Linked DNA regions of Homo sapiens. The protein of the gene in region 1 interacts with the protein of each later gene in a pairwise test. Each region holds a gene or a part of one and is shown in the gene's direction. Other genes may lie near its edges.

Region 1 (3,500 bases):
GTTGAACCCGAGGGTATGAACATTTTGCATTTTATACAGGTGTGCTGTTTTTACCCCTGCTAACAGCGTTTGAGAGTACTCGCTTCGTGGTGCTGAGGGATGGGCAGATTTTTATAATGCAAGATCAACATAAAAACTAAGCAGCCTAAAACCGGAAATTAAGAACCCCATGAGGCCAGTGCCCTGACTCACGCCTGTAATCCCCACACTTTGTGAGGCTGAGGCAGTTGCTTGCGCTCAGGAGTTTGAAACTAGCCTGGGCAACATGGCGAAACCCCGTCTCTACCAAAAATAGAAAAAGAAAAAATTAACTGAGTGTGGTAGCACACACTTGTGGTCCCAGTTACTGGGGAGGCTGAGAGGTGGAGGTTGCAGTGAGCTGGGATCGTGCCACTGCACTCAAGCCTGGGTGACAGAGTGAGACCCTGTAACCCACCATACAAAAAGAACCTCGATACCCATACAGTGATACCTTGCTCCTCTCATATGGGAGTCTATTAAGAGCATTCTTTGGGTACATCTTAGTGTATTGACTTAAAACGATGTCTCAGGATGCATGGGGAAAAGCAGTAGGTTTGGCGTGGCTCAATTTCTACATTAGAGACAAATATAAATATATTTTTAACTGGAGCTCTATATGTCTAACAGCGGCTCTTTCAGGAGCAGAGGCTGCTCACTGACTCAGCAATTATTTCAGTGCCCACTCTGCACCCAGAGCTATCCCAGGCCCTGGGAATATAGTATAAAAGATTTCTGCTCTTATGAAGTTTGTAGTCTACTTTGGGAGAGATGGACCCAAAAAATGTGTTTAAAGAGAATTTCAGAGATGGATGTCTATTACGAAGCAGGTAACAGTGTAATGTGACTAAAAATGACTTTAGATGTGACCACATTTTTATTGTATATACTGCTAGATGTGATTATGTTATGGGATCCTTTCCGTTTCTACATTTTGGGTGTGTTTGAACTTTCGATGAGTGTGAATTCCTTTCGTAATCAGAATAAAACATTATAGATAATAAAACCCATTGTAAAGCTTTGAAATGAAACCCTTGACTCCTAGCTGGTATCCTGCAGGTCTTGACTCCTATTTTTTTGTTTGTTTGCTTGTTTTGTTTTGGCTTTTTCGAGACAGAGTCTCGCTCTGTCGCCCAGGCTGGAATGCAGTGGTGTGATCGTAACTCACAGCAGCCTTGACCTCTTGGGCTCAAGCGATCTTCCTGTCTCAGCCTCCCGAGTAGCTGGGACTACAGGTGTGCAGCACCATGCCCAGCTATTTAAAATTTTTTTTTTTTTTTTTTTTTTTTTTGTTGAGAGAGAGTCTCCCTGTGTTGCCCAGGCTGGTCTTGAACTCGTTGGCCTCAAGCAGTCTTCCTGCCTTGGCCTCCCAAAGTGTTGGGATTACAGGCGTGAGCCACCACATCTGGCCTGGGTCTTGACTCTTAAGCACCTTAGGTCCCCGGAGCAGGCATTTCCATCTCCAGGTTCAACTTATCATTGTGGGGGTTGGGGGGCTATGGGCCAACTTGAGATGAACAGAACAAGACGCGGTGAGGGTACCATGGGAAAAGGAAGCCACCCCCATTTCCAGAAACTCTTTAGGCTTGGTTAGCATCGTGAACTGCAGAGCAAGCCTGGGGCCTGTGTAGAATGGGGCCAGGGATTGAAAAGCTGGAGGAAGGAGTGGGTCTGAGGGTGGGAGCTTCCTTTTTTTTTTTTTTGAGATGGAGTTTCGCTCTTGTCCCCCGGTCTGGAGTGCAGTGGCTCAATTTCGGCTCACTGCAACCTCCGCCTCCCGGGTTCAAATGATTCTTTTGCCTCAGCCTCCCGAGTAGCTGGGATTACAGGCGCCCACCACCACGCCGGGCTAAATTTTTTTTTTTTGTATTTTTAGTAGAGATGGGGTTTTGCCATGTTGGCCAGGCTTGTCTCGAACTCCTGACCTCAGGTGATCTGCCCGCCTCTGCCTCCCAAAGTGCTGAGATTATAGGCGTGAGCCACTGCACCTGGCCTGAGGGTGGGAGCTTCTGATAACAGCATCCCATGAGGGGTGTATGTGCATAGAAGTGGGAAGAACTGGGGAGGCGGATTTGAGGGAAGTGAGTCTGACCTGTCTCATGCCGCCTGTCTGCCTGGTATGGCCTTATCTTGCCCTAGTGTCCGCTAAATGCCCGTGTCTCCTCTCTGCTCCACCACAGATGCCGTGCGCGAAATTCGGAAGTATGATGATGTGACGGAAAAGGTGAACCTCCAGAACAATCCCGGGGCCATGGAGCACTTCCACATGAAGCTTTTCCGTGCCCAGAGGAATCTCTACATTGCTGGCTTTTCCTTGCTGCTGTCCTTGTGAGTGGGGGGTTGAGGGGGCAGGTGCTGTGAAAGGAGCCATGGGCTAGCCATGGACACCGAGCTCAGTGGGCTCAGTCTCCCCCCTGTGACTTTGATTCCTCCTCAGTCTGTGGCCTGGATCCCAAAGCCCTGTCTGTGTTAGGGAAGCCACATAGTTTTCTCCTGACCTCCAGAGGCAGCGTGGAGAGTAGGAGAGGGCTGCCTGAAATATCAGAAGACCCTCACACACCACATACTCTCAGGCAAACAGATGACTATCTCACGGTCTGTTTGCATGGAGAGTGAGATGTAACGGTAAGGCCTTGCCCTCCTCTGGGAGAGGACCTTCAGAGTCCAGCTCACAAGGGAGCGACTGAATGGGGGACTCTTTGTGTCCGGGGTGTTGACCTAGGGACAGCAGGTAAAAGTGGCACGAAGAGGCTGGGCCTCTCCTCACCTCAGGGCCTTCCCCACGTGAAACTCGTAATGAGGACATGTTACATTCCATGGCAGCCAGAGTATTTCTGATGATTTTTTTGGTAAAACTAAGTACCTTAATCAAGGCTAAGGGTAACTAGTCGGGCAAAACTAGACCACTACGAAGTGCCTATTTGAGCCTGGGGCCCTGTTTGCTGCCTCCTGCTTCACATAGCCGTTCTGATCAGCAGGGCCTGGCTGGGAGGTGGATGGGAGCTCAGACCATGTATGAAGGCATTGGAAAGGCGCTTGCTTTGAGGGTGGAGCTCTCATCACTTAATCACTTCTCAAAAGACCCCACCTCTTAATGCTACGGCAGTGAGGATTAAATTCCAACACATGAAGTTTGAAGGGCACTCAGACCATAGCACCAAGTGATTCTCAGGCTCATGGACAGTTATTCCCCACTTGGTTTTGTGCCCCGAGACTCAAGAATCTCCATGCCTAGGAGATTCTTGCTCTCTAGTCACCTGGTGTGTCCTGCTTTACTAGGCGCTACGATGACTACTTGTCTTAAAATCTGTTGTTTAGATGATCTGGTACTCTCTGCGACCAAGTTGGAAAGAGGGGTGGAGCTAGAAAAGGCAAACACATTTTTTTCAAGATAATGGGTTTGATCACAGATTTGATCTACAAGCTTGCTGTCTTCAAACTTAGGAAAGTCAGGAAGGCTGGGAGGAGTCAGACACATACCC
Region 2 (3,500 bases), on another chromosome or scaffold:
CACACCTGTAATCCCAGCACTTTAGGAGGCTGACATGGGGGGATTGCTTGAGGCCAGAAATTCAAGACCATCCTGGGAAACATAGCGAGACCCCATCTCTACAAAAAATTAAAAAATTGGCCAGGCATGGTAGCACATGCCTGTAGTCCCAGCTAATCAGGAGACTGAGGTGGGAGGATCACTTGTGCCCAGGAGTTCAAGGCTACAGTGAGCCATGATCGTGCCACTGCACTCCAGCCTGGGTGACAGAGCAAGACCCCATTTCCAAAAAAAAAAGTATCTATAAATAAAATGCTACTCATGGATAAAATGTGGTCTATGGATATAAACATTCATAAAATTAATAAAGGCAAATGAATTACTGATATATGCCTGGATAAATCTTGAAAAAATGCATGTGAAAGGAGGCAGATACAAAAAGTCACAAATAGTATGATTTCATTTATAAGAAATATCCAGAATAGGCAAATCCATAGTGACAGAAAGTAGAGGAATTGTTAGGGGCTGTGGGGAGAGAGAGTGGGGTGTGACTGCTAATGGTACAGGATTTCCTTTTAAGGTGATGATATTGTTCTTGAAATAGTGGTGGTGGGTGCACAACTCTGTGAACATATTAAAAACCACTAGATTGTACAGTTTAAAATTGTGAATTTTGTGGCATGTGAATTATATGTCAGTTTTTAAAAAACGAGTTCCTCTGTAATGAGTTGTGGGTGTTTTCTACTTTATTCATTTTTGGAGTCCATGATATTCATTGATGAGGCAGATGTTATCTTTGCATATTTGTCAAGTATAGTTAGATTAAAAATTAGTGGACTAATGCAGTTATGGCAGTTTAAAATTATGTTTGAGAGAATTTGGGTTTCTAAATATCTTTGGTTAACATAAGACTGTAATTATAGCAAAGACACTTTCTTTTTTTTTTTTTTTTTTGAGACAGAGTCTCACTCCATCGCCCAGGCTGGAGTGCAGTGGCGCGATCTCGGCTCACTGCAAGCTCCGCCTCCCGGGTTCACGCCATTCTCCTGCCTCAGCTTCCCGAGTAGCTGGGACTACAGGCGCCCGCCACCACACCCGGCTAATTTTTTGTATTTTTAGTAGAGACGGGGTTTCACCATGTTAGCCAGGATGGTCTCGATCTCCTGACCTCATGATCCGCCAGCCTCGGCCTCCCAAATTGCTGGGATTACAAGTGTGAGCCACTGCGCCCGGCCAAAGACACTTTCAAATACTCATGATTGGATATGCCTCTGTGATTGACAGTGAGATTTCAAATGGGTTAAAGATTGCTCTGCAAAGAGGTTAACTGTTGAGATTGATACAGGCTATCTTCAACATATGTACATTGCTGTATATGACATTTACCTACCATTGTGCATCTGGGACTTCCTGATGGACCACAGGAATTCCCTTTTCTTCCCATTCTCTTCCAGATCTTTCTTCTACTTGAAACCCCTTATCTACAAAAATGAATAAACAACCCAATCTCATTTCTGATCGTGTCCTGGAATTGATCTAGGGCAAGGTCTGGAGAAGTGGTGGGAGACAGCAGACAGCTTTTGTTAGTCTTCTAACCCCAGCACTTTCTCAGCCTCATCTGTGTGTTCCTGTCTCACTCTGCAGACCTCACTTCACAATGCTCTTCAGATCCTTTAATGAATAGGAAATTGATTTTGGGTATTTCTATAAAATACAGCAAAGTCTTAGAAACTTGCAGTGTCCTTAAGAAGAAAGATCCCTTCTTATCTCCCTGCCAGTTTTTCTTTCTTTATGGCTCAAACACTAACTGATTTTTGCCATGGAGGTATTGTGCTTCAGACTGCTTTTGTGAACTGGTTTGAGGACATAACCGTTGTCTGTTATATTTTTCCTTCTTGTGGAAACATTCTGATTTCCCAGTAATAGTCTCAAAAAGGAACTTCTGAAATGCAAGCTACATGCATGTGTTAGGCTCCTTTTATTCTGGACCCATTTTGAGGAAACACATCTCTAAAAGAGGCTTTTGAAAAGCTAGCAAGAGCAAGTTATAGTGTAGATATCTAACACAAATAGGAATGACAACAAATCCCAGAAAAACCAGCTTCTCAAACAGTGTGAAAACCAGAGGAAAACTCTAACTTGATTAAAATTAATAAGTGTCACAACATTAGAAGGGAAGAGAGAGCTGGAAGGAAACAGGAACCCACCCACACAGGCCTCACTGCTTGGTGACTCAAGCAAATAGAAGCAAATTGATGTGGTATTCAAAGAGGTACAATAGCTAACATCTGTAGAAGGGAATGTACTGAAATTAAAAAAAAAAAAGAACTAAAAATATCAATGGTGGCAATATAGGGCACGAAGGAGCCACAGTGCAAGAAATAGGTGATACTGAAGATTCAAAAAAGGCGGGAGTTTCCACTCACGTTCTCATATAAAATGAATTGCAGAACAGAAGTCATAGGGAAATTTTCAAAGTTCACCATGTAAAAGAAACATTACAAAACATTATAACAGAAAAACAATATATATAGAACCAATGTATCTAGAAAACCTGATGAGGTTGTATAAGCTTTCAAAAAGTAAGACTACCAGAGGAAGTAGAAAAGGTTGGAATATACAGCTTATAAATAATCAGGGAGAAAAGTTATAGAAAACTTTGCTGAACTGAAAGGCCACCTCACTATGGTTAGTGAGAGTTTATGGTGTTCCACAACAAAAAAATTTCTTCCCTTCCTGAGTACTTAAACAATTTCCAGCATAAAAGAGCAGATTTTAAAATGTAATAGTTAAAAACAACTTGGGACCTTAAACTTGAAAGAAGAAAAAATCCCCGTGTAGTAGGAAATATTAGGTTCCTGGATAACAGACCATGCAGTTTCCTAAAGCTGGAAACATTTTGAAAACACTTAGAAAAGCTAATGGAACTTTGAAAGCACCTTACCAAAGATTATTTAACTTTAATCAGAGTAGTTAGCTGTTATCAAAGAGTAACTGTTATATAAATAAATAAAATTAACCAAGTTTTCAGACTAGCACTGTCCAATAGGACTTTCTGCAGTGATAACGTTGGAACGCTGTCCAAAACAGTAGCCACTAGTCACTTAAAATGTGGCTAGTGGGTCTGAGAAACTGAGTTTTTAATTTTATTTACTTTTGGTCAGGAGTGGTGGCTGACACCTGTAATCCCAGCACTTTGGAAGGCCAAGGTGGGAGGATCGCTTCAGGCCAGGAGTTCAAGACCAGCTTGGGCAATATAGCAAGACCTCGCCTCTGCAAAAAATTTTAAAAATTTAAAAAATTAGCCGGATACAGTGGCGCATATTAGTCCTAGCTACTCGGGAGGCTAAGGCAGGAGAATCGCTTGAGCCCAGGAGTTTCAGGCTGAAGTAAGTTATGGTCACTCCACTGCACTCCAAGTCTAGGAGACAGAGCAAGACCCTGTTTTCCAAAAAAAAAAAAAATGAAAATTCTTTACTCTTTATTTAAGTTTAAATAGGCACATATGGCTAGTGGCTGCA
Region 3 (3,500 bases), on another chromosome or scaffold:
CCTCTAAGACTCAAGATGTCCAAGACCACGTTATTTATGATGTTAATATAGAACTTTTTTATTAGGTTATTCTTCTTTGTTTCCATAACTATGTTGTACTTAATGCTGTTTTTATAACCTTGTGTATATTTTTGTGTATTTGTGTCCTTTTTGGTCTTCAGAAGAACAAGCTACTGAATCAGTGTCCCTTTATTACTATGGCATCAAAGATTTGGCTACTGTTTTCTTCTACATGCTAGTGGCGATAATTATTCATGCCGTAATTCAAGAGTATATGTTGGATGTAAGTATGCAGTCTTAGAAATCTATACTTTATAAAGTACTAGCTCTCCATAATCTGCTAGTCATATATTAAATATAATTTATAATTTATTCTTAATTACTAATGGCTGTTTTTATTTTTAGAAAATTAACAGGCGAATGCACTTCTCCAAAACAAAACACAGCAAGTTTAATGAATCTGGTCAGCTTAGTGCGTTCTACCTTTTTGCCTGTGTTTGGGGCACATTCATTCTCATCTCTGTAAGTATGTCCTCTTAGGTTGTTGTTCTCCTTCCTTATCTAAGATTAGAAACTCTGCTAATGAAATAGTATTAAGTTAAGAGTTTCAGTGATAAATCTGTTTTAGGTATTTTTTTATACAGCAAAAATTCTAAACTATGTTTACTGTTTCAGAAAGGCTTATTCATTTTTAGTCACTCTGAATGTTACTTTTATATCTTTCTTTTTTTTTTTTTTTTTTTTTTTTGAGACAGAGTCTCGCTCTGTCTCCAGGCTGGAGTGCAGTGGCATGATCTCGGCTCACTGCAACCTCCGCCTCCCGGGTTCAAGCGATTCTCCTGCCTCAGCTTCCCAAGTAGCTGGGACTACAGACGCACGCCACCACGCCCAGCTAATTTTTGTATTTTTAGTAGAAACAAGGTTTCACCATGTTGGCCAGGATGGTCTCGAACTCCTGACCTCGTGATCCACCCGCCTCGGCCTCCCAAAGTGCTGGGATTACAGGCTTGAGCCACCAAGCCCGGCCTTACTTTTGTATCTTATAGTGGTTTACAGATACCTCTGTATCAGCAAAAAGCGTAGGTTACATGAGTTGTAATGTTCACAGTCATTTCCTCCTTTAAAAACAGCCCCAGTGTTTTCCAAGCTTCTTAAATGTTGTATAACTTTTCAGTTATGGCAATCAAAACCTTTAGTTGTATCACTCTAACTAATGAGAAAAAGAAAGGCAGTATTTGCTTTAATATTAGTGATAACAATCCCTTAAATTTATATGGTGTTCCATAGTTTACATACTTTTGAGTTTGTCAGACACATAATTCTTTCTAATCACTGTATTAGAGATGAATAACAGTGAGTTTTCCAGGGTAAAGCACTTCATGTTGGAAGTAGACTAAAACTCAGCTTTTTATTCCATTGCTCATTCCATTTTACTGTGCTGCTTTAATAATACTTTATAGGTAATATGTAAATTTTAGTTTAAAAACTATTATACATTTTTTTAAAAAAACATAAAAGTTATACTTCTGTGGGAAAATACTCTTACAAAAATCACTTTAGATTTTATTTATTTTTTAATCTTTTTTTTTTTTTTTTTACATATGCAGTAATTCTCACTGAGTAGATCTGATTATCTAAGAAAAAAATTGGGGCAGTATTTTATTGACGTAATTCCATAAAACTCGGTAGCACCCTGATCCTTTGTCTCCTGTCAGATGCTACAAACTTTTCCTGAAATCTTCTGATTACCTAAGACAAAATTCTTCTCTCCTGGTCACTGTTGTGCCTCTTATTGGTGGTTTTATGTTTGTTTGTGTACGTGTATTTTTATTCTATGGGATTGAAAGATTTTTTAGGGCCAGGAATTATGTCTTACCTGATTCCATATCTCATTTCTATCATTGATTTTCATTTTGCTCAAGTAACCAACTCAAATTGGCTTGAAAATAACTAAAACAACTAAGGATTTTGACATTAGTGGGTTCTTTGCAACCTGGTATGGGACCTGTAAATGTTTGAGAAATGAAAGTAATGCCTTATTTTCCAAGAAGTTTGCATTATGCTCACAGGTTAATTTTTATATCTTCTTTCTTAGGAAAACTACATCTCAGACCCAACTATCTTATGGAGGGCTTATCCCCATAACCTGATGACGTAAGTCATTTTTAGCAGCCCTTTCTTTGTTAAGGACCATGGTCATGTCACTATTAATCAGAATTCATTCTTGTTATTCTCTTTAGGACCTTAGGCAAATGCATAAAATAGATGAAAATATGTCTTTGACAGTCCCACTGCCGTAAGAAAAAAAAAGCTGTGTACCTTTTTTTAATGTTTCTATTCTAATCTTTTCAACATCTTTGTAAGCTTGAGACAACTGATTTTAACATAACTTAATTTGGTACTCGCTTCTTTTCCCTTCTTTTCACTCATACTTTCTCCTTTTTATGACTCCATCTTCTCTATATTTTTGCTCCTTTTCTTTGTCCCCACCCCCTGTCTCTTTTCACATCTTCCTTTCTTTCTCCTATTATAAGCTTCTTGAGGTTAGGAATTGTTTCTTTTTTATTTCTCTAGTCTGTACAGTGCTGCTGGGTTAAAGTGCTCAGTGGTTACCAAGACGTCTGAATAATTCATTATTCGAGCCCAGCTCTAGTACAACTATTCTATATTAATTTTCCTTGCTATTTTAGCCTGTATTGGTCTTTTGTATCCCCAAATTTGTCATTTTGGTAGAAATTTGATGTAGTGTCTATATATTGTTTTGATTGTTCTATAATTGTCTCATTTTTGTAAGTCTTGTATTGTGCCCATACCCACTAAGACTATATGTGCCTTGGTAGCGGTAAAAACTATTTTATATCCTTCATTGTGCCAGGTACATTGCAAGTGCTTGTCACCTACACAGTATTTAGTAAATACATTGTGATGTGAGAATTGGAGAAGGGAGAAGATACGAAGGAAAGAAGGGAATAACCTGACTGTGGGTATTTTAAGTCTAGCAGTAATACCCACTCTACTGAATCATACTCTGATTTCTAAAGTTTTATTAGTTCAACGAACTTTGTAAATATTATATTTATGTGGGACTGTATTCTCTCCACCCCGACCACCAAGAAATTAGGTTGGCTTTGTGTTTTCTATTTTAGACTTCTGGAGGAGAAGGAGCAGGGAGAATAAAGAGGAAGCAGAAGGGCTAGAGGGATATAATGTCAAGAGGAGAGTATTGGTTCTAGACTGATTATGATATAGCTCCTGGAGAGCCCTTGTGTGCCTTATTCTGACTGTCTTTAATCCTAGCTCTGCCTCCATTTATTTGGGGCTTTCTCCATGTTCCAACCAGGTACAGTTACCATATTTGCCTAAGAAAAAAAAAAAAAACAGAGGATATTTGAAATTGGGATTATTCCAGTTTCAGGTGATTATTAATCTATGAGCCTTTGCTTTTGTGTCAGTCTTTTTCCCCTTCTTGTCTTGATGAAACTGTATAGACATGTGGGTTA
Region 4 (3,500 bases), on another chromosome or scaffold:
GACAGACACAGGAGTGACTCATGAGAGCTGCCTTTAAAAAATGAGCTGATTAGCCAGACGCGGTGGCTCACGCCTGTAATCCCATCCCTTTGGGAGGCTGAGGTGGGCAGATTGCTTGAACTCAGGAGTTCACAACCAGCCTGGGCAACACAGTGAAACCCCATCTCTACTAAAACACACAAAAAAATTAGGATCTGGCAGCATGCACCTGTGGTCTCAGCTACTCAGGAGGCTGAGGCAGGAAAATTGCTTGAACCTGGGAGGTAGAGGTTGCAGTGAGCCAGTATCGTGCCACTGCACTCCAACCTGGGTGGCAGAACGAGACTCCATCTCAAAAAACAAACAAACAAACAAACAAAAAACAAAAAAAACCCTGATCAATGCTTTTCTGATAGACAGAGGCAGGTGAGGCCTGGATGTCCCTGGGCAGGGCACTTAACCTGCTCATCAGTTATTTCAGGCACAAATAAGGGACTGTAATAATCGTGTTCACCTCATAATAAGTGAGAAGACTCCTCTGTTGTTGAGCCTCACCATGAGTTTTATGAATGACATATATCAATATTTAGTCACCTATTTAAACCCTTTAAAAACAACACCATATGGTAGTTAAACCTGTGGGCTCTGGAATTAGACTTCCAGGATTTGAATCCTGACTCTAACACTTACTAGCTATGTGACCATGAGCAAGTTAATTAACCTCTATCACCTGGGGGTTCTCACCTGTAAGTGGATGTTAATACCAACATAATTGGGTCACAGTAATTAATTAAGGTAATAGAGACAAGACATTTGAAAGAGTCCCTGGGAAAAGTGAGTACTCTTTAAATGTTAACTGTAATGATTGTTATTGTTATTATTAAGATGCTTAAGTAAGAAACAACACTTTGAGCTGTTGTCCTTTTGCAGTAATTCAGCACCTGATTTTACATTTCTGAAATCATGTTTCTAAAACGTTCACAAAATTCAAGGATATACTTCTTTCTTACACTCTCCACTTATCTGCACCAAAATTCTTTGGCTTTCACCTGTCAGCAGCTCTTGCTCATTTTGAGCGAGATAGGGGTTTGAATTGCTTGTCATCCCTTTGATTTAGGTGCAGCTGAATTCATTTCCATCTTACACCACATGAGCTAGGAAGAGGCATAAGTTATCCTGGTGATAGCTTTTCATGGCCTAATTTTTCTTCCTGGTTTCCTGGGCTCTGTGTCTGCTACCTCATGGTTGGAGCCTCCCTGATTGGCAGTGTCACATGGTATGTTGCTCTGGCACAGGCCAGTTTTTATTAAAAACAAAAAACAAGGAGAATGTACTGGTGTACAAGGACAAGGTGACTTTTTTTCTTTTCCCAGATTGAAAGGGCCAAAGAACTTCACATGAGCAGACCCCCAAAGCTGGCAGAAATATGTGTTCTGCAGCTTCTGGAGTCATTCTTGGCAGGAGCAAATGCTATCATGTTTTTAGGTGAAGTATGGTCCTGCCTGAGAAAGGAGGATGGAAACAGTAGCTTCTGGTCCTGAGATTCCCCAGTGCATAAAGATAATCCCTCTTGTTGGCCTTTTTCTTGGTCTATGAATCCCTTCTTGGGGAGGACTCTCTTGTAATTGATGTGCATCTATTTCTGGCCAGCTACAAATGCTCACCATTTAGCTATGGTAGAATATTTCAGAAGGCACTGTAGGTATTCTGTTCCTGGGTCATCTTCCTTGGTTCATCCTTTTTTGGACTCAGCCCTTTCAACTCTTTCACTCATTTATGGCAGGGTCAATAAGAGACATGTGTTGACAAGCAGAAACTAACTTCCAGGGTCCCAGGCAGAGGATGTCAGCACCGCCTCCCACCGCCTGCCCCCGCACCACGGTGGATCCATGTTTCCACACACTATTTTTCTTTAGTAGTATGTGTAGTTGAAGGTCTGGGATCACTCTAGAGTCACATTGTGACTAATGACACAAAATCTCCCTTGTGGCCTGTCTTCTGTGAGGAGCCAACTTAATGCTTAATGCTAATCTCTCAATTGTGCATTTCTTGTCTTCTCCACCAGACCATGAGCTCCTTGAAGCAGAGAATTTGTCTCATGCTTCTCTAAAATCTATTATAACCTAAAATGGTGCTAGGCACTTGGTAGTTACTTAAATTGTTGAGTGAGAGTGGGTGAGTGGATAAGTGATGGGTAGGTGAGAGACAGCTTACTTCCCCATAGCGACACTCTCCCTCTACTTTACTTGCAGCTTAACAAGAGTGGCAGTGTCTGAGGCATCCCCCACTAGAGGTATCTCATAGGTCAGCAACATACTTCATGCCTTCTCTCTTTCATCCCTAACCTGCACTATCTGGCCACCCTCAGCCATGAAGACATTATAGGTTGGATGGAAATTTTTCGCAGTTGTCACAGGGCATGGAAGTTGGGGAATATTGAATGGTTGGAACCTACTTCAATCAGACACACTCATGGAGAAAATGCACTGGGGGGGCTGTTGAGGAAACATACACAGGTGTGTTTGTTCAGGTCAGCCTGGGGACCTGAAGACAAAAGAGCTGTTATTGAGGGATGCCATTAGTGCTTTGGTGATTTCTGTGTTTAGACTTTGGGGAATTGGACTAGTCCTTACTTTAAAAGGTACAGATAAGCATGATTATACCCAAGACCCTCCAAACGCAGTAACAGTTTGAACCTATCTTTCCACAAAGCACTTTTAAGAAGTGGGCTATGCATCCCCTGTCCCTCTAGTTATTTAGTTAAACAAAGTGGTTCAGAGCACTCAAAAACCAGGCTAATGCAGGATCAGATCTTTGTTCTATCGGTCATGAGCTATGTGACCTCTATCAAGTTACTATCACCCCTTTGAGATGCAGTTCTTTATCCCTTCATAAAACAGGATGACTATATACTTACCTGATTGGGTTTTGTGCAAAGGAAATGAGTCACGCACATAAAGTGCTTGTCTCAGTACCTGATGCATGGTAAGCTCTCAGCAAACATTCACTATCATTATCCTTATCGTAATTATCAGTGGGCAGAGAAGTGTCCACAGAACCCTTCCCAACCTGTGCTCCAAATTTTATATTCTCTCTTCTGGAGGGAAGAAAGACACCATTGCAGATGAAGACATTAGACCAGGTATGAATTGGCATAGAGTGTTATACTTGAAAGAACCCAATGTTACACAGCAGAGAAGTAGGAGAGCTGGACTAGAACTCACTTCTGCCCAGGGTTTTTCCTCCACACCTGGCTCAGGTTAGACCATGGAGTTTTGAAGAAACTCAGTGGCTAATGAATGGGATTTGAAGTGAAGATGGTACAAGGTAAGGCCAAAGGCTTAGGCAGGGGCCTGACTATGAACCTTGAAGTCTTATGTAGGAGACTGGATTCCATCCTGAGGGAAAAAAGAAGCCAACTTGAAGGATTGGGTTTTAAGCACAGGGACAACTCCAGTGATTCAATTTGCAGTAAAACAAACAAACAAACAAACAAACAAACAAACAACAACAACAACAAA
Region 5 (2,816 bases), on another chromosome or scaffold:
AGGCTGTCGAAGAACGGGCCAGTTAAATCACCATCTGGGTGTCACAGCCTGCCTGACAATCATGCCTAATCTCATATCAGGGATATGCAGTAATAGCTTGCATTTGAAAGCTTTAAAAAAACAAACAAACCAAACCCTTCCACATCTTGCTAATTTTAATGTTTTGCAGTTCTGTCATTCCTCTAAGGGATCAGTGAGGGCAGTAAAACTTGAGCAGGCCTCCTCTTTCTCCCCTTCCTTTTATAGGGTAGGGGTATGTTTTTCAAAGACTTTTCAAATTGTGAACTGTAATATACAGAGATATACCATATTGGTGGTTGTGGTGTGTGTGTTTTTCTTTAAGAGAATAAAAAGAAACTTGTTTCTCTTCTGAGCCTTGAATTGCCTTCAGGCTAAAAAAACAAATGACCAATCTGGTTTCTAATTATCAAAGGACATAATAACAGCAGGTTTGGCTTTCTGATCTAGGTTTATCAAGTAGGATGGCAGATGCATCAATTAAAAAAAGCTTGGTGCTTTTGGGGGGCAGCCAACAGTTACTTTACTTTAAATGGCCATATTCTAACTTAACGGCTTGTAGCTACTTCTCAGTTGTGGGCAACACAGGATACAAGATTCTAGTGGCAAAATCAGCGAGCCCTGGAGCCTGCCTTCCACTTGAACTTTCTCTGTTGGGGGAAGTCCTTCTGCTAAATTTTGCATAAAGATCAGATGACAAAATACAGCTCCTTGCAAAAGCAGTAACTGCTTTGAAATTACCATAAATTTTTGTTGATTATGTATAATTGGGTATCTTTTTATACTAATTATTTGCATTTAATTTCACTATCTACTTAAGCAGTGGAGATGGCTTCCATATTGTCTTAGAGTGAGTAGCAAAGCAAGACAGCCCTAGCATTTTCTCCAGCAAGTGTTCTATTTTATTATGTACTTTGGAGGAATATTATTGTACCAGAAGGCATGGATGTTGAGAAACCAGCACTTGGAAAATACATTTTGATTTAATGGTAAAGCTGTATTTGTTTAAAATGGAGGAGGTGAGTATAGGAAGGTATAACTGCTTTTCTAAATGGAATGCTGATACATTTGTATCACCATTTTCCATTCCATTTAGAGTAGTTATATCTTCTCTGTACACACTAAATTTTGTGTTTAAAAGGGGTTTTTGGCCAGGCGTGGTTGCTCACGTCGGTAATCCCAGCATTTTGGGAGGCCGACGGGTGGATCACGAGGTCAGGAGATCGAGACCATCCTGGCTAACATGGTGAAACCCTGGCTCCACTAAAAATACAAAAATTAGCTGGACATGGTAGCGGGCGCCTGTTGTCCCAGCTACTCGGGAGGCTGAGGCAGGAGAATTGCTTGAACCCGGGAGGTGGAGGTTGCAGTGAGCTGAGATCATGCTACTGCACTCCAGCCTGGTGACAGAGTGAGACTCCGTCTCAAAAAAAAACAAAAAAACAAAAACCCGAGTTGTTGTCTGTTTTGGGAAGAGGCATGAAGGTATCGAGTATGATGTAAACAGACTCCAGTCACTGACTGCTGTCCCTTCCCAGGCAGGATGCATGTAGTATAACAAGTAGTGCAGGGCGCAGGCTCTGGAACCAGGCTGACTAGGTTGGAATCCTGTCACTTTCGAAGCGCTTCACTCAGTGTTGGCTCAATTTTCTTGTTTATAAAACAGGAGTAATAGTAATGCCTACCTCATGGGGTTATTGTGAAGATCAGATGAATTTATAAGCAGGCAGCACCTAGTGTAAGGCAATAATCACTGAGTAAATTCACATAGTAACTGCTCTAGTATAAGGTCAAGTATAAAGCCTGTCCTCTTCAGGGTTTCTGCTGTGGACAAGTCACCTGTCATGACTTACTCTTGCTGCCAAGAAGGGTTTAAGCGGAGGTATCAGATCATGCTCTCTGCCTTCAAGCAAAATTTTAAACATTAGGATCTGCTAAGTGGAATAGGTTTAAACACATTCTCAGTTTACTAATAAAAGAGTCAAAGATGGGAAATAGTTGGAAAATACTATTGAGAGTGTAGGCTTGGGTTTAAGTTCTCTTAGCTGTTCTGTGAACTCTTAGTTTATTAATTTTAAGGTGGGAAATCATCTAACCGTCTGGGGCCCCAGCTCTCCCACCATCTGTGAGAAGGGAAGAATGTACCTGGAAGGCAGATTCTGAATAAATTTTAAAACATACCCATACTTCCAACATAGAAAGCCTTCTTCCCCTGTCTCCTTTGATGGGCTCAGCTGAGAGCCTTTTAGAAATGCTGTGCAAGGCTCAAACATGCAGGCTGTGGATTTGGCCTTTGAAAGTGAATGTATTTTGTATCCTTTGATCCAGTTTGAGCCATATTTAGATATACCAAGATGCTATCAGTCATTCTTTGGTTGCTGGGCTTGTGGGTGTAATATTTTTGTTTCCATACTGTTCTGCATGGATTACTTTTATAAGCAGAGAAAAAAACGTTCAGAGTGTGAATTTAGCTGAAATCTGAATACATTTAAGAAACATGAAAAACGAATGCCGTCTGTGGTCAGGTCATGGGGCTGAGTACAGAAAAGACAAAGTTAAATAAGACGTCCCTCGCTGCCTTCAACATGACAAGTGCCATGGGAACAGCAGGAGAGGGAGGTGTTCTCGGAGGTCAGATAACTATGTGGAAGTGACTTTGTTCTCTTCTCTCCGTTTGTGTCCCCGTCTTTCTGCACCAGGTACCGCTGGCTGCCCAGTAGGAGAGGAGGAGTATCAGGATTTGGTGTGCCCCCTGCTAGCATGAGGCGAGCTGCTGATCAGAATGGCGGAGGCGGGAG
Region 6 (4,161 bases), on another chromosome or scaffold:
ATGCACATTTTATTTGTACTGTATTTGGGTGACCACAAGTCAACAACAAGATAATTCACAAGACCCTTGCCTTAGATGTGTCGGCAATAAAGTAATCAGGCCAAAATTTTTACTTTCCTTTGAATTTTTCAATTCAAACACAATGTATGCTTGCTTTTACACAGTAGGGTTCAGGGATTAGAGGGTTGGCTCTTTAAAAACCGTCAGAGACACAGGCAATCCTACACAAAATTCTCAGAAGGAAGGCGCCTACGCCTGGGAATGCCCAGATGCCCCTCAGAGAGTTGAAGATGGCGTTTCTCTGAGTCAGGTCAAAGTTAACACATTACCTTCGCTTCAAAGACTGCTTGGCTTCCTTTCGGTGGATTAGTCAAGATGTTTTGCTGACTGAGACTAGGAAATCTATAGGAGGGCGGGTTAGTTTACATTGTTCCTTGTCATTATCGCTAAAACACTCCAAAGCCTTCCTTAAAAATGCGCACTGGGCTAAAAAGGATAGACAAGGAACACATCCTGGGCCGGTAATTACGCAAAGCATTATCTCCTCTTACCTCCTTGCAGATTTTTTTTTCTCTTTCAGTACGTGTCCTAAGATTTCTGTGCCACCCTTGGAGTTCACTCACCTAAACCTGAAACTAATAAAGCTTGGTTCTTTTCTCCGACACGCAAAGGAAGCGCTAAGGTAAATGCATCAGACCCACACTGCCGCGGAACTTTTCGGCTCTCTAAGGCTGTATTTTGATATACGAAAGGCACATTTTCCTTCCCTTTTCAAAATGCACCTTGCAAACGTAACAGGAACCCGACTAGGATCATCGGGAAAAGGAGGAGGAGGAGGAAGGCAGGCTCCGGGGAAGCTGGTGGCAGCGGGTCCTGGGTCTGGCGGACCCTGACGCGAAGGAGGGTCTAGGAAGCTCTCCGGGGAGCCGGTTCTCCCGCCGGTGGCTTCTTCTGTCCTCCAGCGTTGCCAACTGGACCTAAAGAGAGGCCGCGACTGTCGCCCACCTGCGGGATGGGCCTGGTGCTGGGCGGTAAGGACACGGACCTGGAAGGAGCGCGCGCGAGGGAGGGAGGCTGGGAGTCAGAATCGGGAAAGGGAGGTGCGGGGCGGCGAGGGAGCGAAGGAGGAGAGGAGGAAGGAGCGGGAGGGGTGCTGGCGGGGGTGCGTAGTGGGTGGAGAAAGCCGCTAGAGCAAATTTGGGGCCGGACCAGGCAGCACTCGGCTTTTAACCTGGGCAGTGAAGGCGGGGGAAAGAGCAAAAGGAAGGGGTGGTGTGCGGAGTAGGGGTGGGTGGGGGGAATTGGAAGCAAATGACATCACAGCAGGTCAGAGAAAAAGGGTTGAGCGGCAGGCACCCAGAGTAGTAGGTCTTTGGCATTAGGAGCTTGAGCCCAGACGGCCCTAGCAGGGACCCCAGCGCCCGAGAGACCATGCAGAGGTCGCCTCTGGAAAAGGCCAGCGTTGTCTCCAAACTTTTTTTCAGGTGAGAAGGTGGCCAACCGAGCTTCGGAAAGACACGTGCCCACGAAAGAGGAGGGCGTGTGTATGGGTTGGGTTTGGGGTAAAGGAATAAGCAGTTTTTAAAAAGATGCGCTATCATTCATTGTTTTGAAAGAAAATGTGGGTATTGTAGAATAAAACAGAAAGCATTAAGAAGAGATGGAAGAATGAACTGAAGCTGATTGAATAGAGAGCCACATCTACTTGCAACTGAAAAGTTAGAATCTCAAGACTCAAGTACGCTACTATGCACTTGTTTTATTTCATTTTTCTAAGAAACTAAAAATACTTGTTAATAAGTACCTAAGTATGGTTTATTGGTTTTCCCCCTTCATGCCTTGGACACTTGATTGTCTTCTTGGCACATACAGGTGCCATGCCTGCATATAGTAAGTGCTCAGAAAACATTTCTTGACTGAATTCAGCCAACAAAAATTTTGGGGTAGGTAGAAAATATATGCTTAAAGTATTTATTGTTATGAGACTGGATATATCTAGTATTTGTCACAGGTAAATGATTCTTCAAAAATTGAAAGCAAATTTGTTGAAATATTTATTTTGAAAAAAGTTACTTCACAAGCTATAAATTTTAAAAGCCATAGGAATAGATACCGAAGTTATATCCAACTGACATTTAATAAATTGTATTCATAGCCTAATGTGATGAGCCACAGAAGCTTGCAAACTTTAATGAGATTTTTTAAAATAGCATCTAAGTTCGGAATCTTAGGCAAAGTGTTGTTAGATGTAGCACTTCATATTTGAAGTGTTCTTTGGATATTGCATCTACTTTGTTCCTGTTATTATACTGGTGTGAATGAATGAATAGGTACTGCTCTCTCTTGGGACATTACTTGACACATAATTACCCAATGAATAAGCATACTGAGGTATCAAAAAAGTCAAATATGTTATAAATAGCTCATATATGTGTGTAGGGGGGAAGGAATTTAGCTTTCACATCTCTCTTATGTTTAGTTCTCTGCATGTGCAGTTAATCCTGGAACTCCGGTGCTAAGGAGAGACTGTTGGCCCTTGAAGGAGAGCTCCTCCCTGTGGATGAGAGAGAAGGACTTTACTCTTTGGAATTATCTTTTTGTGTTGATGTTATCCACCTTTTGTTACTCCACCTATAAAATCGGCTTATCTATTGATCTGTTTTCCTAGTCCTTATAAAGTCAAAATGTTAATTGGCATAAATTATAGACTTTTTTTAGCAGAGAACTTTGAGGAACCTAAATGCCAACCAGTCTAAAAATGCAGTTTTCAGAAGAATGAATATTTCATGGATAGTTCTAAATACTAATGAACTTTAAAATAGCTTACTATTGATCTGTCAAAGTGGGTTTTTATATAATTTTCTTTTTACAAATCACCTGACACATTTAATATAGGTTAAAAAATGCTATCAGGCTGGTTTGCAAAGAAAATGTATTACAAAGGCTGCTAAGTGTGTTAAGAGCATACTCATTTCTGTTCTCCAAAATATTTCATAAGGTGCTTTAAGAATAGGTATGTTTTTAAAAGTTAAGTTCCTACTATTTATAGGAACTGACAATCACCTAAAATACCAATGATTACAAACTTCCTTCTGGCCTTCTGGACTGCAATTCTAAAAGTGTAAAAAACATATTTTCTGCATTAAGTTAGGCAGTATTGCTTAGTTTTCAAAGTGGTAGGCTTTGGAGTCAGATTATTTTGATTCAGATCCTACATCTACTGTTTAGTAGCTCTGTTGCCTGAGGCAGGTCCCTTAACATCTCTGTGTGTGACTTGACCTTTAAAATTTGGAGACTGTCATAGGGGTTAATCCCTTGAGAAAATGAATGTGAAAAGTTAGCCTAATGTTAACTGCTATTATTATGGATTACCATATTTTCACATTCATCACAGTACATGCACCTTGTTAATATAAGATGCTCAATTCATCTTTGAGTATAATTTTGTGACTCTCAATCTGGATATGCAATGAGTGGGCCTGTATGAGAATTTAATTTATGAAAAATTGTGTTTCACATGGCCTTACCAGATATACAGGAAACACGTCACATGTTTCTATTGTATGTTGTTAAATGCCTTAGAATTTAACTTTCTGAATAGGATCCCTTCAGTTTGAGAGTCATAAAAGAGTAAAATTATTATGGTATGAGTTATAGATTGTATTGAATATCTCTTTATATGTCTAGGTTTTGTCATTGGAAAACCAAAAAGTTTGGAAAAAAAATCTAAGTTATTTCTTACTTTCTTAATTTTGTGTGGATTTCACATCAAGTATAAAATTTGAAGAACATCTGAACTATCATAATCCATATATATATATAAAATAAACATAATCTAAGAGAGAATTTCACCATGAAAAATTCAGGTAGTTCATGACTATCAGAGCAAACAAGTACATTAAATTGAAACTTTTATGAAAATAACATTTATGAAATAGGAAGCTATTTTTAAACTAGAAGTGATATATTAGCATATAATTTATAATTCATATACAAGTGGGATTGATTTATAAATGGTCACCAACAGAGATTGTGCTATTTAATTTGGGAAAATTTTTTAAATTTACATTTTCTCACAACTTTTAAGGTAGTTATTCAGTTTGTTCCTCTCTGTCTCTTCTCTCATGCCCTGAATTTTTCATATTTCGTTTAGTTGTAAGA
Region 7 (3,500 bases), on another chromosome or scaffold:
TATAATATCAAGATCAGGAAATTAACACAGATATAGTACTATTATCTTATTTAAAGACCTGTAAATTTTGCTAGTTATCCCACAGTATCATTTATTTTAAAAATAAATAAAAAAATGTATTTTTCAGAAGTTAGGCTTGAGTTCTTATTAAAAAATTAATTAATTAAATTTTTTTTTGTCTGGTCCAGAATCTGACCCTGGATCACATGTTGAATTTGCCTGTTATGCTGCTTTGGTCTCATTTAGTCTGGAAGAGTTTCTCTGTTTTTGTCTTTCATGGCCTTGACTATGGGTGATTTATTTTGTAGAATGTCCCTCAATTTGGGTTTGTTTGATGGTTTCTCATGACTGCATTCAGACTATGTTTTTTGACAGGAATACCCTAGAACTGAAATTAAATTAGAAACCCATGATATCTCTGTCCCTTTACTGGTGATGTTTACTTCAGTGACTTGCTTAAGATGGCCTCTGCCAACTATACACTGTAAAATTACTATGTTTTTCCTTGGTAATTTATAAGTATTTTGAGTACTTGTTAGTTCCTTTGAGACTATGTAAATATCCTGCTTTTCATCAAATTTCTACTACTTAAATGCTATTATAAACTATAATATTTCTACTATCTAAAAACTATTCTAAATTCTTAGCATTTATAATTTTTTTATTTTTTTAAAAATTATTTATTCCTTTATTTATTTTTTGAGACAGGGTCTCACTCTGTTGCCCAGGCTGGAGTACAGTGGCACAATCTTGGCTTGCTGCAACCTCCATTTCCCAGGCTCACTCGATTCTCCTGTCTCAGCCTCCCAAGTAGCTGGGACTATAGGCATGTGCCACCATTCCCAGCTAATTTTTGTATTTTTTGTAGAGACAGGGTTTTGCCATGTTGCCCAGGCTGGTCTCAGAGTCCTCAGCTCAAGCAGTTCACCCCCTCCTTGGCCTCCCAAAGGGTTGGGATTATAGGTGTGAGCCACTGTGCCCAGCCTATTTTTATTTTTTAATTAATTAATTTTTTTTTTGAAATTTTTTGAGGCAGGGTCTTCCTGCCTCAGTGCAGGCTGGAGTGCAGCGGCGCGATCATAGCTCACCACAACCTCAAACTTCTGGACTCAAGGTTTCCTCCCGCCTCAGCCTTCCGAGTAGCTAGGACTGCAAACACACACCACCATGCCTAGCTAATTCTTAAATTTTTTTTGTAAAGGCAGGATCTCGCTATGTTGCCCAGGCTGGTCTTAAACTTGTCGGCTCAAGTGATCCTCCCTAGTTGCCTCCCAAAGTGCTGAGATTACAGGTGTGAGCCACCATACCCAGGCAGTTTTAGCATTTAATGATGATTCTTCCTGTAACAATTATGACTGTGGTGGCCAAATGGGCATTTTCTAAAGTCTATCATTCTTTCTACATTTATTGGTTAGTATTATGCTCTAAGGAAGTGTTTTCCCTTCCCCCCTCTATTTACATATTTATTTATCTATTTATAATTTATTTCTATCAGTAGGGACTCATGGATTCTTATTTTATTCTGTAGATTTATAATTCATTACAGGTTGAGCAGCACAAATCTGAAATCCTGAATGCTCAGATTCAAAACTTTTTGAGCATTGACACGTCATTCAAAGGAATTGCTCATTGGAGCATTTCAGATTTCGGTTTTTTGGATTTGGGATGCTCAACCAGTAAGTGTTAAAAGCGCATATTCCCAAATCTGAAAAAATCCTAAATCCAAGTATCAGATAAGGGATCTGGTCTCAAGTATCAGATAAGGGATACTCAACCATTTTTTCATCTCCTGATAGGATAGGCTACACATGGAACTTTTACGTAAGCCTCAATACTTAAAGAATAGTATTTCTAGAGATTTTCTAGTATTTCTATCTGTTTGGGTGTACCTGACTAATCCATAGCTAAAATTCCTCTACCGCAGTTCTAGAATAAGGAAAATATGATGGTGTCTTAGAACCTCACAGTTTTTTAATTAACTTTAGCAATCTGCACATCGTGCTGCCACACGAGGCTTCATTCGTTATGGCTGGCGCTGGGGTTGGAGAACTGCAGTGTTTGTGACTATATTCAAGTAAGTTCACTCTGAATTGTGAGATAGTGAATTTTCTTGATATTGTTTTAGGAGTGTGTCTTTTGAGCAGGTGGGGTTATGAAAACTGAATACCCACATGAAAGTGATTAATAATGCCTTTTTTTTTTTTTCAAGAACTTTTCTCTGTGTAAAAGACTGGTGTAGTTATGGTTTTACAACCATGTCTGGAACACATTGAAGGGGCCTAGGCTAGGAACAGGGATTGATATAGTAGGCTTTTCTAAATCTATTAAGTCAGTGAAAATAACACTCAAGAAGGTAAATGGGATATGCTTTAAATCTTATATTTTCCTTCTCCTCCCTTTTTACCAGCACAGTGAACACTAGTCTGAATGTATACCGAAATAAAGATGCCTTAAGCCATTTTGTAATTGCAGGAGGTAAGACATTTTTGTTTATATTTTTCAGTCTTCTCAAATACAGTTTAGAAAATGTGTAAGGACTTATACATCAGAACTACTGAATTCTTTGGTTGGCTTCCCATTACATCTCATCAACATTGATGCAAAATGTATTTATGGACAGTGTTGTGCTTCACCCTTGATATACTCAATGGGCAAAACAGCAAGGCCCTTGCTTTCTTTGAATTTTAATGTCTAATATGTATGTGATAATACAGGTTGTTGTGATAGAAAGTAACAATTCGGTGGAACAATGGGATCTCATATGGACAGGGTAGTCAAAGAAGGCCTTTCTGAGGAAGTGACATTTGAGCTGATACCAAAGAATAGGAAGGAGCAAGACTTGCAAGGAAGGGTGTCCTAAATAGAGGGAACATCAAGGGGGAAGGCTCTAAGGCAAAACATTTCCTTAAAAGCAGGATAATAACGTGGTGAGTGAGGGAAAGAGTAGCTTGAGATGAGATTGGTGAGGACTATAGGAATGGACTAGATTTTTTATGGTAAGAACTTGGATTTTATTTTAAAGCTCTCTGCCTCTAGTATATATATGTATATTTTCTTTTTAATGAGCATTAAAAATAGAAGGTACAATGGTGATTACCAGAGACTGGATATGGGGTTGGAAAAGATGTTGGTCAAAGGATACAAAATTTCATTTAGACAGGAGGAATAAGTTCAAGAGATCTATTTAAAACATGGTAACTATGGTTACTAACAGTGTATTGTATACTTCAAAATTGCTTTTAAAAAGTAGATTTTGGCCAAGCGGTGGCTCACACCTGTAATCCCAGCACTTTGGGAGGCCAAGGCAGGTGGATCATCAGAGGTGATTTGAGACCAGCCTGGCTAACATGGTGAAACCCCGTCTCTACTAAAAATACAAAAATTAGCTGGGTGTGGTGGCAGGTGCCTGTAATCCCAGCTACTTGGGAGGCTGAGGCAGGAGAATCACTTGAACCCAGGAGGCAGAGGTTGCAGTGAGCTGAGTTCACGCCATTGCACTC

What was found.
Region 2: the proteins of BCAP31 (region 1) and HACD2 interact in binary tests that used the Homo sapiens proteins (3 or more experiments, as listed by UniProt).
Region 3: the proteins of BCAP31 (region 1) and TRAM1 interact in binary tests that used the Homo sapiens proteins (3 or more experiments, as listed by UniProt).
Region 4: the proteins of BCAP31 (region 1) and DRD2 interact in a two-hybrid assay, tested with the Homo sapiens proteins (one large-scale study listed by BioGRID and IntAct).
Region 5: the proteins of BCAP31 (region 1) and DERL1 interact in binary tests that used the Homo sapiens proteins (3 or more experiments, as listed by UniProt).
Region 6: the proteins of BCAP31 (region 1) and CFTR interact in binary tests that used the Homo sapiens proteins (3 or more experiments, as listed by UniProt).
Region 7: the proteins of BCAP31 (region 1) and TIMMDC1 interact in binary tests that used the Homo sapiens proteins (3 or more experiments, as listed by UniProt).

What each region holds. Positions count from the first base shown.
Region 1 is NC_000023.11:153,714,388-153,717,887, reverse strand, and holds part of BCAP31 (B-cell receptor-associated protein 31), read left to right. Parts: intron 1-2,198; coding exon 2,199-2,346; intron 2,347-3,500. UniProt on the Homo sapiens protein: Functions as a chaperone protein. Is one of the most abundant endoplasmic reticulum (ER) proteins.
Region 2 is NC_000003.12:123,575,054-123,578,553, reverse strand, and holds part of HACD2 (very-long-chain (3R)-3-hydroxyacyl-CoA dehydratase 2), read left to right. Parts: intron 1-3,500. UniProt on the Homo sapiens protein: Catalyzes the third of the very long-chain fatty acids (VLCFA) elongation four-step cycle (condensation, reduction, dehydration, and reduction).
Region 3 is NC_000008.11:70,594,917-70,598,416, reverse strand, and holds part of TRAM1 (translocating chain-associated membrane protein 1), read left to right. Parts: intron 1-161; coding exon 162-283; intron 284-405; coding exon 406-522; intron 523-2,095; coding exon 2,096-2,154; intron 2,155-3,500. UniProt on the Homo sapiens protein: Involved in the translocation of nascent protein chains into or through the endoplasmic reticulum (ER) membrane by facilitating the proper chain positioning at the SEC61 channel.
Region 4 is NC_000011.10:113,465,399-113,468,898, reverse strand, and holds part of DRD2 (D(2) dopamine receptor), read left to right. Parts: intron 1-3,500. UniProt on the Homo sapiens protein: Dopamine receptor whose activity is mediated by G proteins which inhibit adenylyl cyclase. Positively regulates postnatal regression of retinal hyaloid vessels via suppression of VEGFR2/KDR activity, downstream of OPN5.
Region 5 is NC_000008.11:123,015,487-123,018,302, reverse strand, and holds part of DERL1 (derlin-1), read left to right. Parts: intron 1-2,717; coding exon 2,718-2,816. UniProt on the Homo sapiens protein: Functional component of endoplasmic reticulum-associated degradation (ERAD) for misfolded lumenal proteins. Forms homotetramers which encircle a large channel traversing the endoplasmic reticulum (ER) membrane.
Region 6 is NC_000007.14:117,478,664-117,482,824, forward strand, and holds the start of CFTR (cystic fibrosis transmembrane conductance regulator), read left to right. Parts: upstream 1-1,361; 5' UTR 1,362-1,431; coding exon 1,432-1,484; intron 1,485-4,161. UniProt on the Homo sapiens protein: Epithelial ion channel that plays an important role in the regulation of epithelial ion and water transport and fluid homeostasis. Mediates the transport of chloride ions across the cell membrane.
Region 7 is NC_000003.12:119,501,547-119,505,046, forward strand, and holds part of TIMMDC1 (complex I assembly factor TIMMDC1, mitochondrial isoform 1 precursor), read left to right. Parts: intron 1-1,985; coding exon 1,986-2,074; intron 2,075-2,407; coding exon 2,408-2,475; intron 2,476-3,500.